4 linked regions of the Homo sapiens genome follow. The protein of the gene in region 1 interacts with the protein of each later gene in a pairwise test. Each region holds a gene or a part of one and is shown in the gene's direction. Other genes may lie near its edges.

Evidence for each region. Proteins that work in one complex are often made in the same cells at the same time.
Region 2: the proteins of PTPRJ (region 1) and TRMO interact in a two-hybrid assay, tested with the Homo sapiens proteins (one large-scale study listed by BioGRID and IntAct).
Region 3: the proteins of PTPRJ (region 1) and TMEFF1 interact in a two-hybrid assay, tested with the Homo sapiens proteins (one large-scale study listed by BioGRID).
Region 4: the proteins of PTPRJ (region 1) and TSTD2 interact in a two-hybrid assay, tested with the Homo sapiens proteins (one large-scale study listed by BioGRID and IntAct).

What each region holds. Positions count from the first base shown.
Region 1 is NC_000011.10:48,127,059-48,130,558, forward strand, and holds part of PTPRJ (receptor-type tyrosine-protein phosphatase eta isoform 1 precursor), read left to right. Parts: intron 1-721; coding exon 722-985; intron 986-3,400; coding exon 3,401-3,500. UniProt on the Homo sapiens protein: Tyrosine phosphatase which dephosphorylates or contributes to the dephosphorylation of CTNND1, FLT3, PDGFRB, MET, KDR, LYN, SRC, MAPK1, MAPK3, EGFR, TJP1, OCLN, PIK3R1 and PIK3R2. Plays a role in cell adhesion, migration, proliferation and differentiation.
Region 2 is NC_000009.12:97,905,501-97,909,000, reverse strand, and holds part of TRMO (tRNA (adenine(37)-N6)-methyltransferase), read left to right. Parts: intron 1-3,500. UniProt on the Homo sapiens protein: S-adenosyl-L-methionine-dependent methyltransferase responsible for the addition of the methyl group in the formation of N6-methyl-N6-threonylcarbamoyladenosine at position 37 (m(6)t(6)A37) of the tRNA anticodon loop of tRNA(Ser)(GCU).
Region 3 is NC_000009.12:100,567,149-100,570,648, forward strand, and holds part of TMEFF1 (tomoregulin-1 precursor), read left to right. Parts: intron 1-3,500.
Region 4 is NC_000009.12:97,626,869-97,630,368, reverse strand, and holds part of TSTD2 (thiosulfate sulfurtransferase/rhodanese-like domain-containing protein 2), read left to right. Parts: intron 1-2,756; 5' UTR 2,757-2,806; coding exon 2,807-2,971; intron 2,972-3,500.

The sequences.
Region 1 (3,500 bases):
GAGGAAGGCACTGACTCCTTTCTCCTGTGGCCCTTCAGGGGCCTGCCCATTGGCTCATAGTGGAACCCGGTCACAGCCCATGTGGCAAGACCCCCCATGATGCCTTGCACAAGGTCAGCCTCCTGGGCCCAGAGCAGGTGAGGGAAGGGCAGTGGATATGTCGGGAGGGTGGAGTGGGCAGGTGGTGAATAACTGGCACTCGGGTTATCTTTTCTTGAGGTTAGGATTGCTCTCCAGTTTTATAGGTGAGGAAGCTGAGCTCAAGTGGTTTTCCTGTGGCCCACCTGGGTGTCATAGCAGAGTGAGCCCTGGAACCCAGGCCTGCCTCGTCCTGACTTCTGTGATCTCGGGCGATCACATAGATCGCAGTGTTCGCTCTTGCATCATGTGTGTTTGACAACTTTTCTGGGTGCCCCTGGCCCTAGGGTAAGACATGCATAGAGTCCAAGTCATCATTTAGGTCAAATCTCTAAAGTCAACTTACAAAAAGGAACAAAGAATAACCCTGCAGGTGCCATTGGCCAGGTTGTTTCTTCACCGCCCAATGATGCCTGACTTTGGCTGGGACCGTCATGCTTTCCTAGCCACGGTTGATGGTGCAGAGGAGGAAGGAACACTCCCCCAGGAGAGTTTGCTGGGCTTGACAGCATGCCCTGATGACCTCTCCCTCCCTCTGCCTTGGCCGTTCTGGTTATTTTGAACTCCTCTTGTGTTCTCACAGATGCTATTCAGGTTTTTGACGTCACCGCTGTGAACATCAGTGCCACAAGCCTGACCCTGATCTGGAAAGTCAGCGATAACGAGTCGTCATCTAACTATACCTACAAGATACATGTGGCGGGGGAGACAGATTCTTCCAATCTCAACGTCAGTGAGCCTCGCGCTGTCATCCCCGGACTCCGCTCCAGCACCTTCTACAACATCACAGTGTGTCCTGTCCTAGGTGACATCGAGGGCACGCCGGGCTTCCTCCAAGTGCACACCCGTGAGTTCATGCCTGGCTCTCACCACCCTTTCCTGCTGTCCTGCTCCGTGCCAGGCCCAGACACAGGATGCATGATGTAGTAATGGTGACTGTTGGCTGACCACACGCCAAGCTTCGTGTGACATGCTTTCCTTGCACTGGCACATTGTATGCTCACAACAGCCCTGTGATGTGGTTGGAAGTAGCCTTATTTTATAGATAGGAAGCCAAGGCTGAGAGAGGTGCTAGACAGGTATCACAGCTGGAAAGTGGCAGAGGTGAGATTAAGCCTCTGGTATTTCTCACCTGGAGCCTGCGCTTGTAACTCTCTTTCCAGTGTGGAGGAGACCTAGAGTGAATTGATACAGGGAGACAAAAATGACCTGGTATTCATATCCCCTTGTGTCTTGGGTGCTGACATTATAACGAATCACTGGCACAGCTGTATCTCATCTTTGTTTGTTTAAATGTCCCTTAAAAATAAGATTTTATGCAGCAAATAAAAAGCTTTAGGTTTCAAAGAAGGTCCGATAATGTAAAATAAAACAGTAATGGTGCACTAGTAGTACAGTGGTATAATATTGATTATATACTATTAAACAATAGTAGTGACACCAGCACTGCATTTTGCACTGTGCCATGAGATTTATAGACACTGTAGTGGCCTCCGAGGTAGGTATTGGGGTCCCCTTTTACAGATGAGGAAATGACACCCTGATGGCTGAACAGTTTGCCCAAAGCCACAGAGCTAGTGAGTAGCAGAGCAGGACTTGAACTCAGGGGTGTGTGGCTCTGGACCCAGGCTTATCCCACAAGAATGTCCATTCCTTCGCAGGAAGCACACCTTAGCATTCTTATAGATGTATTTTGGACTGGATCTTTGGGAAAATGAAATATGCTTGCATTTCTTTACCTTTTACTCTTTTACTATTTATTAGTTAGGATTAGGTTCAGCCACGAATAACACCACCAAAAACAACAACAACAAAACCCAAGTATCCGTGGCTTAAACAAGACAGGGGTTTATTTCTCTCTCCTGTAACAGAAGCCCAGTGCTAGGCAGGATGGGGATGATAGAGGTTATCCAAGGCTCAGTTGTATGAAACAGAAACTGTGAGCTATTTTAACCAAAAGGGATTTATCCTGGGAATTGAGGTTTTGCAGAATCATTGGAAGAGCTGGTGTATTAGTTTGCTAGGGCTACCAGAACAAGTACCAAAGGCTGTGTGGCTTGAACAGAAATAGACTTTCTCATAGTTCTGGAGGCTGAAGGTCAAAGATTAAGGCAACGGCAGGTGTGGTTTCTTCTGAGGCCTCCCTCTTGGCTTATAGATGACTGTCTTCTCCCTCACATGGTTGTCCTTAGTCTGCGTGTGCCTATGCCCTCATCTCCCTTTATAAGGACACCAGTCTTGCTGGATTAGGGCCTACCTTCATGACCTCACATTAACTTAATTACCTCTTTGAAGACCCTGTCTCCAAAGACAGCCACATTCTGAGGTCTTGGGGGTTAGGACATAAACATACACATTTGGGGGTGAGGGAGCACAAGTCAGCTCATAACAGTTGAGGAGCAGGCTTTAGGCCTCGCCCCAAGAAATGACTCCTGGACTAAGTCTGCAGAACTGACCCCCTGGAGAGTCACCACCTTGGTCACAGACAGCAGAGGGAGGAATCAGGAAGTCTCTGCTGTAGTTGCGGGATCCAGGGGTCTATGTTCTGAGCTGTGATCCTGGGATCAGGAAGCTGCAGCCACCGCTGAGGTTTTGGTTCTAGAGCCAGGCAGCGTGAGCTCCAGTCATTGCATCCACACTACAGGTATAAGAAGGAGGAAGGGCAGAAGGTTGTGCCCCACCCTTAAAGGACACTTCCTAGAAGTCACCCAGTACCTCTGCTCATGCTTCGTTGAGCAAAACTTAGTCACATTGCAACATCTAGCTCCATGGGAGCTGGGAAATGTGGTCTTTGTTTCCAACAGGTATGCACACACAGGGCTAAAAATCTGGGTGGGTATGATGAAGGGAAAATGGGGGAATGGATTTTGGGGGTCAAGACTGGTCTCTCTCTGCTGTCCCTCCCTGAACAGAGGCTCTGGGAGGCTAGTAATGCATTCGAGATAAAGCAGCCAGTGTGGCCAAGGTTCTCCTCCAGAGCCTGAGCCCTTGACCACAGGAGCTCACGCCTCCTCTCATTTCCTGTGAATGATTGTGTGCAATGTAAGCACAGAGCTTCTGCACTCTCATGATCAAGTGCTCTCTCCATGGCCAGAAACAGCAGTTTCTGAGGGGCTCATGTTGTAGGTGATGATACAAAGAAGACAGAGAGAGGGATCAGGTGTCCTAAGTGTACATTTCATCTCAGTATTTTCTGAGGTGGGGCATCCCTGTCTCCTGGAGAAGTATATTTTTAATCTAGTTGTTTACTTTCTTTGCATAGCCCCTGTTCCAGTTTCTGACTTCCGAGTGACAGTGGTCAGCACGACGGAGATCGGCTTAGCATGGAGCAGCCATGATGCAGAATCATTTCAGATGCATAT
Region 2 (3,500 bases), on another chromosome or scaffold:
CCTGGGTGACAGAGTGAGACTCCATCAAAAAGAAGAAGCTGGTTGCCAAGGAGATGTCAGATTGCAAAAAGCTGTTCTTTGTGTTACAACTCAGTAAGGAGCCAGCATAACCATATAAAGAGGGAAGTTCATTTATTCATTCTACAGTTGTTTACTGAGCTTCTGCTAGGTACCAGACATTGGTCTAGGTTCTTGGAATACATCAGTGAACAAAACAGATATAAAAAACCCCTGCTGTCATGGAGCTTGCATTCTAATGGGGAGGAGAGAGACAAATTAAAAGTATAATAAGCAATCAAGTTATTAGACCAAACATATTCAACATTATATAATATTAGAAGGTGATAAGAGTTACTGAAAAATTTAAGAATACAGCAGGCTTGGAGTGTTGTTACTATTTTATTTTATTTTTGAGACAGGGTCTCACTCTGTCACCCAGACTGGAGTGCAGTGGCAAGAACATGGCTTACTGCAGCCTCAGCCTTCCGGGCTCAAGCAGTCCTCCCACCTCAGCCTTCTGTGTAGCTGGGACTACAGGTGTGCACCACAACACCTGGCTAATATTTTGATTTTTTTTTTTTTTTTTTTTGAGACGGAGTCTCGCTCTGTCGCCCAGGCTGGAGTGCAATGGCTCGATCTCGGCTCACTGCAAGCTCCGCCTCCCGGGTTCACACCATTCACCTGCCTCCGCCTCCCGAGTAGCTGGGACTACAGGCGCCCGCCACCACACCCAGCTAATTTTTTGTATTTTTAGTAGAGACTGAGTTTCACCGTGTTAGGCAGGATGGTCTCGATCTCCTGACCTTGTGATTCCCCCGCCTTGGCCTCCCAAAGTGTCCAGATTACAGGTGTGAGCCACCGTGCCCAACCTATTTTGAATTTTTAAAGAGACGGGGTCTCATTTTGTTGCCCAGACTTGTCTTGAACTCTTGGGGGTCAGGGGATCCTCTGTCTCAGCCTCCCAAAGTGCAGGGATTACAGGTGTGAGCCACTGCACCTAGCCTGTTGCAATTTTAAATAGGTGGCCCCAGTGGGCCTCACTGAGAAAGACACATATGAGCAAAGGTCAAAGAGGTGAAGACATGAGCCAGCCTGTCCAGAGAAAGGACATGCTGGCCTGAGGGACAGCCAGTGCACAGCCGCAAAGTGGAGGGTGCATGGCACGTTTGAGGTCATGTGGTCAGAGTGGACTGAGGAGGGCTGAGCGGAAGGATATGAGGTCAAAGAGGCACTAGAAAAGGGACGAGGTCACCTAAGGGTTTTATAGGCCATTGTAAGGACTTGAGTTTTGATCTTGGGAGAAGTAAAAGGCAGAGGAACTTGATGTCCGTATCCCCAGAGAGCAGGGGACCATCTCTGGGGTCAGATCACTACCTGTGTGATTTCTGGGATGTCACACCTCAGTGACATGCAAAGGCAAGCTGGAGTTCCTTATTGAGACAATGAAGACTTTCATTCTATATCCAGAAAATAAAGGCTTACACAACCAAAGATACTAGATTTTCCCCTGCTTTACTAGCAGGGAGAGAATGAAGAGGCTAGGGGGGTATTTGGCTTTGATAATCCAACCTGAAGGAGGTTTTTCTGATGGGAAAAAGAAGTCTAAAAGTTGGGACTGGAGATACATGCCAACTGACTCTGAGATTTCCCCATTTCTTCCTGTCAGAGCCACAGCCAGCCCACACTGTTGCCTTTTGCAAAGGAAAAGCCACCCCTTCCTCTGGGTGGAGGCAGCCACCTGCCAGGGCCCAGGAACTGGTTTTAGCCCCAACATGCAAACTTCAGCCAAGTGCCGTATGCAGGGCACCCCCTGCACTTCTGGACACGGCAGTCTCGTGGTCATGAGTGGTGATGCCACTTGAGGGTTGTGCTTCTCTTTGGCTCCTAAGGCTTTACTTTTAAACAAAGCTTTTGATTTTAAAATTGATCTTTTTATTTTTAAAAGTTTTGTTGATAGAAATCATTACATCACTGTATACAGTTGATGGGAGGAGGCTGGTCAGTTGTAAAAGGATTTTATGGTGGAACAAAACAGTCCTGCCTTCTAGACACTTTATGCTTACCACTTGTCCTGTGGTTATTGTCTAATGCAAACTACTATGGAAAGTTTTGTTTTTCTTTCTTTTCTTTTTTCTTTCTTTCTTTTTTTTTTTTTTTTTGAGACGGAGTCTTACTCTGTCACCCAGGCTGGAGTGTAGTGACGCGATCTCGGCTCACCGCAACCGCCTCCTCCCGGGTTCAAGCGATTCTCCTCCCTCAGCCTCCTGAGTAGCTGGGATTACAGGCGTGAGCCACCACACCCAGCCTGGAAAGTTTTGTTTTTTAAACTGCAGTGCAGTATGTGTCAGATGTTTGAAATATGCCTTACTGATTAAAAAAATGATTAAAATGAGAAATTACGCAGTGTAACTACAAAACAGGAACTGATTGATAGCAAACAGCAAAATTCAGAGCTGTTGCAGAAATAAGAAGTGACTTCAGGAAGTTCTGAGTCTAGAAGAGGTTAAAGGTGTTGAAATGGGAGGAAGTTTGGTGCTGGAGTAAAGGTCTGGGCAGAGTGCTGTGGGCACTCTGAGAGGAGAATCCTGACTTGTGTCTGGGAGGGAGTGTGGAAGGAAACAGTGCTTGAGCTGAGCCTGGCAGGATGAGTAGGCAGGGAATTGGGGGAAGGCACCCATGCCAGATAAACGGCCAAGCAGAGGCCTGGAGCCTCTCCCAGAAACGCCGTCACAGGGGAGTGTGATGAGCTCTCCTCATTTTTGAGTGGCCTTCAGAGCCATTTTCTATGAGCCATGCAGTAAAGGAACCTTATTGCCATATAATTGATTTTTTTTTTTTTTTTTGAGATACAGTCTCTTTCTGTCACCCAGGCTGGAGTGCAGTGGTGCAATCTTGGCTCACTGCAACCTCCACCTCCCGGGTTCAAGTGATCCTCCTGCCTCCTGAGTAGCTAGAATTACAGGCGTGCGCCACCATACCTGGCTAATTTTTTTGTGTGTGTGTATTTTTAGTAGAGATGGCGTTTCACCATGTTGGTCAGGCTGGTCTCAAATTTCTGACCTTGTGAGCCTCCTGCCTTGGCCTCCCAAAGTGCTGGGATTACAGGTGTGAGCCACCGTGCCCAGCCCATATAATTGATTTTTGACTAAAAATTGTACTTCATGGCTTTATTTACCCAACCTGCTTATTAGATATGGCCCACAGTGATTTTTGGCTGCTTGTAGAAATCAAATCCACTCCAAGAGGGATAAAGATCCACTGCCACCACAGATGATATTTTGAGCAGGGACAGTGTTTTTAAGATCTGTACCTTCCTGGAAGGGGCATTTGGATGTATGTGATGTTGTAGTTATGAAAAACTAGGTCACAGTTACTTTCTAAATTTATGTTTTATACATACCATATTAAAAATAAAATACATTAAAAATCCTACAAACATAGGAAGTTTTGCTGTTTCTTAGGGACACAGATGTGAGAGAGTCCCAAAGCAAAGGGATGTT
Region 3 (3,500 bases), on another chromosome or scaffold:
CTCCCTCACCCCCTCTTCTGCAGCCACACTTGCTGTTCTTGGGCATGCCATGCATGCATGGATGCTCCCACTTTAGGGGACTTGCACTGGCTCTTCCTTTGCCTGGTATGCTGTCCTCCAATTGTTTGCATGGCAGGCTCCTCACCTCCTTCAAGTCTTTACTCACGTGTTACCTTCTTAACCTACCCGGATTGCCTTATTTAAAATTGCAACCCTCCCTTCCTGCAACTTTCCTGGCTCATACCTGGTGTTCGCAGTTTCCCTTAACACCTCACACCCCACATCCCCTGTAGTGCATATCACCTTCTAACATAACCATTTAATTCACTTACTTTGTTTATTGACACTCTTCTCCCGGTAGCTGGTAAGCAGGCCAGGGATCTTTATCTGTTCTGTTCACTGATACATCCCAAATGCTCACCACAGTAGGTGCTCAATAATTGTGGTAAATGGATGTGTGAATGAATTCACACGTGAGACAGTGGGAGTGAATGGGATTGCCTGTGGAAGGTGTTTTGGGATGAAAATAGAAAGTGGAGGACTGAATCCCTGGATCTGCCTTTAATCAGTAACAGAAGAAGAAGTAATAACCTAGAAGTTAGTACTCTAGGTATTAGGAGAGTGTATTAGTCTGTTTTCACTGCTAATAAAGACATACCCAAGACTGGGCAATTTACAAAATAAAGGGTTTAATTGGACTTACAGTTCCACGTGGCTGGGGAGGCCTCACAATCATGGGGGAAGGCAAAGAGGAGCAAGTCACATCTTACCTGGATGGCAGCCAGTAAAGAGAGGGCCTGTGCAGCAAAACTCCAGTTTTTAAAACCATCAGATCTCGTGAGACTCATTTACTGTCACAAGAACAGTGCAGGAAAGACCTGCCCCCATAATTCAATCACCTCCCACTGGGTTCCTCCCACGACACATGGGAGTTGTGGGAGTTACTATTCAAGATGGGATTGGGGTAGGGCACAGCCAAACCATATCAGATAGTATAACCAAAAGTCAGTTGGAGAAAATGATATCCAGGGAGAACTGCAGGGATGATATATGGCCTATTGGTTCTTTTTGATACTCTGATTTTAATCTTTGGCTTAAGCCAAACCATTAGAGAGCTGCATATCTAGGACATTGTTACAGCTCCTTATGGAACTGTTTTTATATTACTGAGCTTTGACTATTGGCCATTAGCCTACCATGAAGGACATTATTTAAAAAATCCCATGAGACTTCATTATATCATTGAATTTACTGCAGCTGTGTTGTTGAGGATAATGTTCTTTATGTTAGAAGGTGCCCTCTTTAAATGAGGACCAATGAGATTAAGTTCCCTTAAGTTTCATAACAGTAATAACTGTGCTTCTTTTGAATGACTTGTTTGATTTTATTTTATGGAGATTGTATTTTGTGTCAACTGTCCTCCCTCCCTCCTTCCTTCCCTCCCTCTCTTCCTTCCTTCCTTCTCCATTGGTGTTTAATATATGCACAGAGTTGTGCAACCATCACCACAATCAATTTTAGTACATTTTCATCTCCTCAAGAGGACACCTCATACCCTTTAGCTTTTACTCCCAAATCCCCTCATGCTCTCTAGCTCTAGGCATCCGCTAATTTATTTTCTATCTCTATAGACTTACCTATTCTGGATAGTTCATGTAAATTGAACTATATAGTATGGGGTCTCCTGTGTCTAGCTTTTTTTAACTTAGCGTAATATTTTCCAGGTTCATCCATGTCATAACACATATCAGTACTTCATTCCTTTTTGTGGCTGAATACTATTCCATTGTATGGATGACACCACATGTTTTTAATCTACTCATCATCAGTTGATGAAAATTTAGGTTCTTTCCACTTTATGGTTATTATGAAAAATGCTGCTCTGAATGATCATTTGCAAGTTTTTGTGTGAACGTGTTTTAATTTCACTTGGGTAAAGCTTAGTGGTAGAATTGCTGGGCCAAATGGTAACCCTGTGTTTAACATTTTGAGGAGCTGCCAGACCGTTTTCCAAAGTGGCTGCACCATTTTACACACCCTACAGTACCTTTGACAACACTTGTAATTATCTGACTTTTTGATTTAGGCTATCGTAGTAACTGTAAAAACTGGCATATACGGTGGCTTTGATTTTTATTTCCATGATGGCTAATGATGTTGAGCATCTTTTCATGTGCTTATTGGCTATTTGTATATCTTCTCTGGAGAAATGTCAGTACACATCCTTTGCTCTTTTATTTTTTGGCTATTATTGAGTTGTATTAGTTATTTATATATTCTAGATATAAGTCCCTTATCAGATATATGGAACTTACTTTTTTTTTCCATTTTGTGGCTTGTCTTTTCACTTTCTTGATAATGTCCTTAAGTACAAAAGATTTTAATTTTGATTTAGTGCTATTTATCTTTTTTGTTGTTGTTGTTGCTTTTGATTTTTGGTGTCATATCTAAGAAACTGTTGCCTAATCTAAGGTCACAAAGATTTACTCCTATGTTTTATTCTCTTCTAAAAATTAAATTTATTTAAAAATTGACAAAATTATGTATACATATTATGTACATCATATTTGGAAATATATATACATTGTGAAATGTCCAATCAAGCTGATTAACATATGCATTACCTCACATTGTTACCACTTTTGTGGTGAGAACACTTAAAATCCTCAGCATTTTCCAAGAATACACTGCATTGTTAACTATAGTCACCATGTTGTACACTACATTTCTTGAACCTATTCCTCCCATCTAACTGAAATTTAGTATCCCCTGACCAACATGTCCTCAAAGCACCTCCTACCACACCAGTCCCTGGTAACCACTATTCTACTCTCTACTTCTATGAGATCAACTTTTTTAGGTTCCACATATGAGTGGGATCACTCAGTATATGTCTTTCTATGCTTGGCTTATTTCACTTAATATAATGTTCTGGAGGTTCATCCATGCAAATGATAGGATTTCCTTCTTTTTTATGGCTGAATAGTATTCCATTTTGTATATATACCTCATTATTTTATCCATTTATTTGTTAATGGACACTTAGATTAAATCCATATCTTAGCTATTGTGAATAATGCTGCAATAAACGTGGTAGTGCAGATATTTCTTCAATATACTGATTTTATTTCCTATAGTTATATACCCAGTAATGAGATTGCTGGATCATATGGTAGTTTTATTTTTAATTTTTTGAGGAACTTCCATACGGTTTTCCATAATAACTGTATCTTATGTTTTTTTTCTTCAGAGTTTTATAGTTTTAGCTCTTACGTTTAGATCTGCGATCCATTTTGAGGCAATTTTTGTGTATGACACGAGGAAGAGGTCTAGCTTCATCCTTTTGTGTGTGGATATCCAGTTAGCACCATTTGTTGAAGAAACAGTTCTTTCCCCATTGAGTTATCTTAGCACCCTTGTCAAAACCAATTGACCATAGATGTATGGGTTTATTTCTAGGCTCTCCATTCTCTTCCATGATCCACATACCTGCCCACTGC
Region 4 (3,500 bases), on another chromosome or scaffold:
AGAGGTGCCACAAATAATAATAATTCAGAGTATGTACATAAATCAAAATAAGCTGAGACTGAAAAAAGATGCAGAGTCGGAGGAGATCATTTTGGGGTGGTGGGAAAGGCACCCCACACTCAGGTGCAGAGACCTTGAGTCAGGAAAGAACATGGCTCATTTGTGGAACTGGGCATGGTCCAGTGTGGCTAGAGTAGGATATCTGATGGGGAATGGGGAGCATAGTCAGAGATGAGCCTAGAGTATAGGGAAACTAAGTTTTTCAGGCCTTCAAAGGAAGCAGTGACACAGGGTAGCAGACAAGACATAAGTGAAAGGTGACACTTGAGTTCAGTCTTCATATACATAGTAAGCATATGGGGAGGGAAAGAAGTGAAAAAGTAAGGGAAACAAAGCAGTGGAAAGCATAAATGCTGGGACAGACTACATCAGGTCATATAGAGGGAGATTGGAAAAGATGCTGGAGGTGGGACCGGATTGGATAGTAATTCCTTTCGACAATGTTACCTCCCAAATGTACTGCCCTTATAGGTAAATAAGTTATCTGTTTCTAGAACAATGCCTGGAACCTAGAAGACCCTCCATAAATATTTGTTGAATGAATTTTAATTTGGAAATGATATATGTACTTTCTCTACCTTTACAATAAAACAGCTTTGAGCATGGAGGAAGTGTGTTGAATAAGATTCTTCTACTTATTTTACTTCTGCCTGGAAGGCTTACAGGTTTGTGTAGAGTTAGGGATGTACTTTTTTCAGTGGGACTTTATATGAAAGACATTTTCATGAGAAAGGAAAGAGAAGCTAAAGAAGGTAGTATTTCTTCACCCAGTCTCTTCCACTTATTTTTCAAATACAAGAGAATTTAGGTTTAATAAATCTGTATTACCTTGCCTTACCCTTATAACAAAGCTCATTTTGAGCCCCATGAAAGCACCACTTAGCTGATTCAAATGCATTTTATGTGGTGCAAGTGACATCTTAATTTATGAATCCAAGGAACAAAGGTCCTTTATAAGAAAGTTGGTATTGCCTGTGTGTGTCTGTGTATGTTTAGTCTCCATCAGTCCTATCCAGCATTGTTAACAAGCAGTGTGTGTTCCCCCACACATAAACTGCTCCTTGTTGCCTTCACCTGGTTGAGGTACCCTGTAGGCAGAGTTGTGAATTGGCAAAGTTTGTCACCAGTGTCTCCCACCTTCCTTTCTCTCATTCTTAGTGGTGCTTTTTCTGCTCCCTCTTGTGGAGTTTGGGACTACTTTGCATGTTACTATTTTCAGAACCTTCAGTGTCCACCTCTGGCTGCCTCCTTCAATATTGTCCTGAAGAAACTAACTTTGCCAGTTCACTAGTAATATGAAATAACCAGTTGTTATGTTGTGGGGCAGGAATTTGGACAGGGCACAACAGGGACACCTTGTCTCTGCTCTCAGCTCAGAGGCCAATCTGGAATCTGAAGGGTCTAGTGGTTGATGCTGGCTGTCAGCTGGAGGCCTCTGTTCCTCTCCACCTGGTTCTCTGTGTGTGGTCTCTGCATGGGTTGGATTGGCTTACTCACAATACAGTGGTTTGGTCTCCTCAGCGTGAGCATCTCAGAATGAGAGCTTGCACTAGCGTATCCTTTTGAGAACCCAACCTCAGTCATACAGCATTGCTTCCATCACGCTTTATTTTTGGGAGTAGTTAACAAGCCTGCCTAGGCTTAGGGAAATGGACCAGAAATACTGCTGCAGCCATTTTTGGAAAATATAATCTGTCACAGCTAATTTTTAAATAAAATTTTAATGTTAAATTTAAAATACAGCATTCAATTAAAATATTAATAATATTACCATTCATTGAACCCTAGTTTGTGCCAGACACTATATATTAATATTTCTTTCCAGTCTACAGTACAGTACTGTAATGTAGATACTACAATGCACAATTTCCACAAGAGAGATTTAGAACTCAGAAACCTTAAGTAGCTTGCCCATGTTCACATGCTTGGCAAACTGCTGCAGCACAAACCAAAGCCCATACTTTTTCTCAGTGTGCCTCTTAGTGCTTGTCACCTGTCACCTTTGCTTTACAAAAGAACCAACATGGTATGATGGTTGTAGTGTGTCCATTTTGACAAGATTTGGCCACAGTAGCGATTTTGACATTTCTTCTGGCATATTACAGTGGGGCTGTCTTGGGAACTATTTCTTCTAAGGAAGGAAATTTTCATAGCTCTGAAATTAAGGGGCAAAAAGAAGAAAGTGTTTATAACTGAAGGTGCTGGCACACATCTTGATTGATTTGGGTTGTACCTGTTGCTTTTCTGGTATTATTTACCCTAATGACTGCATGGCTCGCTCCCTAATTCAGGTTTCTGCTCAAATGCTATTGCTGCAGAAAGGCTTTTCCTACTCTCTGTGTTCGAAGGGCTTCTCCATCACTGCCTCCCTACCCTGCTGATTATTCTTCATAACCTTTACACCATCTGACTTTAAAAATAAAAAATCAATTTATCCACTTGTTTACTTCACCCCACTGGAATGTAAACTCTAAGCAGGCAGAAACTTTTTCACTTTCGTTTACTGCTATATTCTCAGTGCTTAGAATAGTGCTTGACTTCGAGTCGTTCCTAAGTAAATACTATTGATTTAGTAAGTAAATGGATGGTTAGCTTGGGCTACTTTGCCCATGCTGATTTGCGTGATTGATTAGCTTCATATTTTCTTCAAGAAATCAAAGAATAGCATGGCTGCTTCTTTCTTATTTATATTCTAGGAGGTATTTAACTGAAAGGAATATCTGCTTCACTGTTGCAACCAAACCAGATGCCTTCTTCCACTTCACCAGACCAAGGAGATGACCTGGAGAACTGCATTTTAAGATTTTCTGACCTGGATTTAAAAGATATGAGTCTTATTAATCCCAGCAGCAGTCTTAAAGCAGAATTAGATGGCAGTACAAAAAAGAAATACTCGTTTGCAAAGAAAAAGGTAGAATTCTTATGAATGTTTCATGATCATGTATGTGTGGTTAACGCAGATACATTTGGAAGTCGGTTATCAAGGTTGCTCTCCAGCTCAAGGTAAAGTCTAGTCAGGAACATTAACCAGTGATGTTAATTCCATCCCAGGCAAAGGGTAATCATAGGCAAGGTGTGGTCCTGGAATAGCCATGGTGGAGTACTTGAGGAGGGTGGATCCTAGACAGATGGATTAGATTTCATTCCCCACCCCCCAGGTCAAAAAAGACCATAAACAAAGTTGAAAACCAAATGACAAGTGAAGAAAAAAGTTGGTAATTATGATCAACAAAAGATCACTAAAAACACGTATCAGTAAGAAGATAAATGCTATAATGGAAAAATAGGCAACAGATTTGAACAGGCAAGCCAGAAATAAACAAATAGATTAAGCAGGAAAAAGTATTCAGCATTACTACTAATCAAAAATATTAAAAAAAAAAATAGGGTAGCATTTCTTTTGCCTTTTATTTGGACCAACATTAAAAATATTGATGATA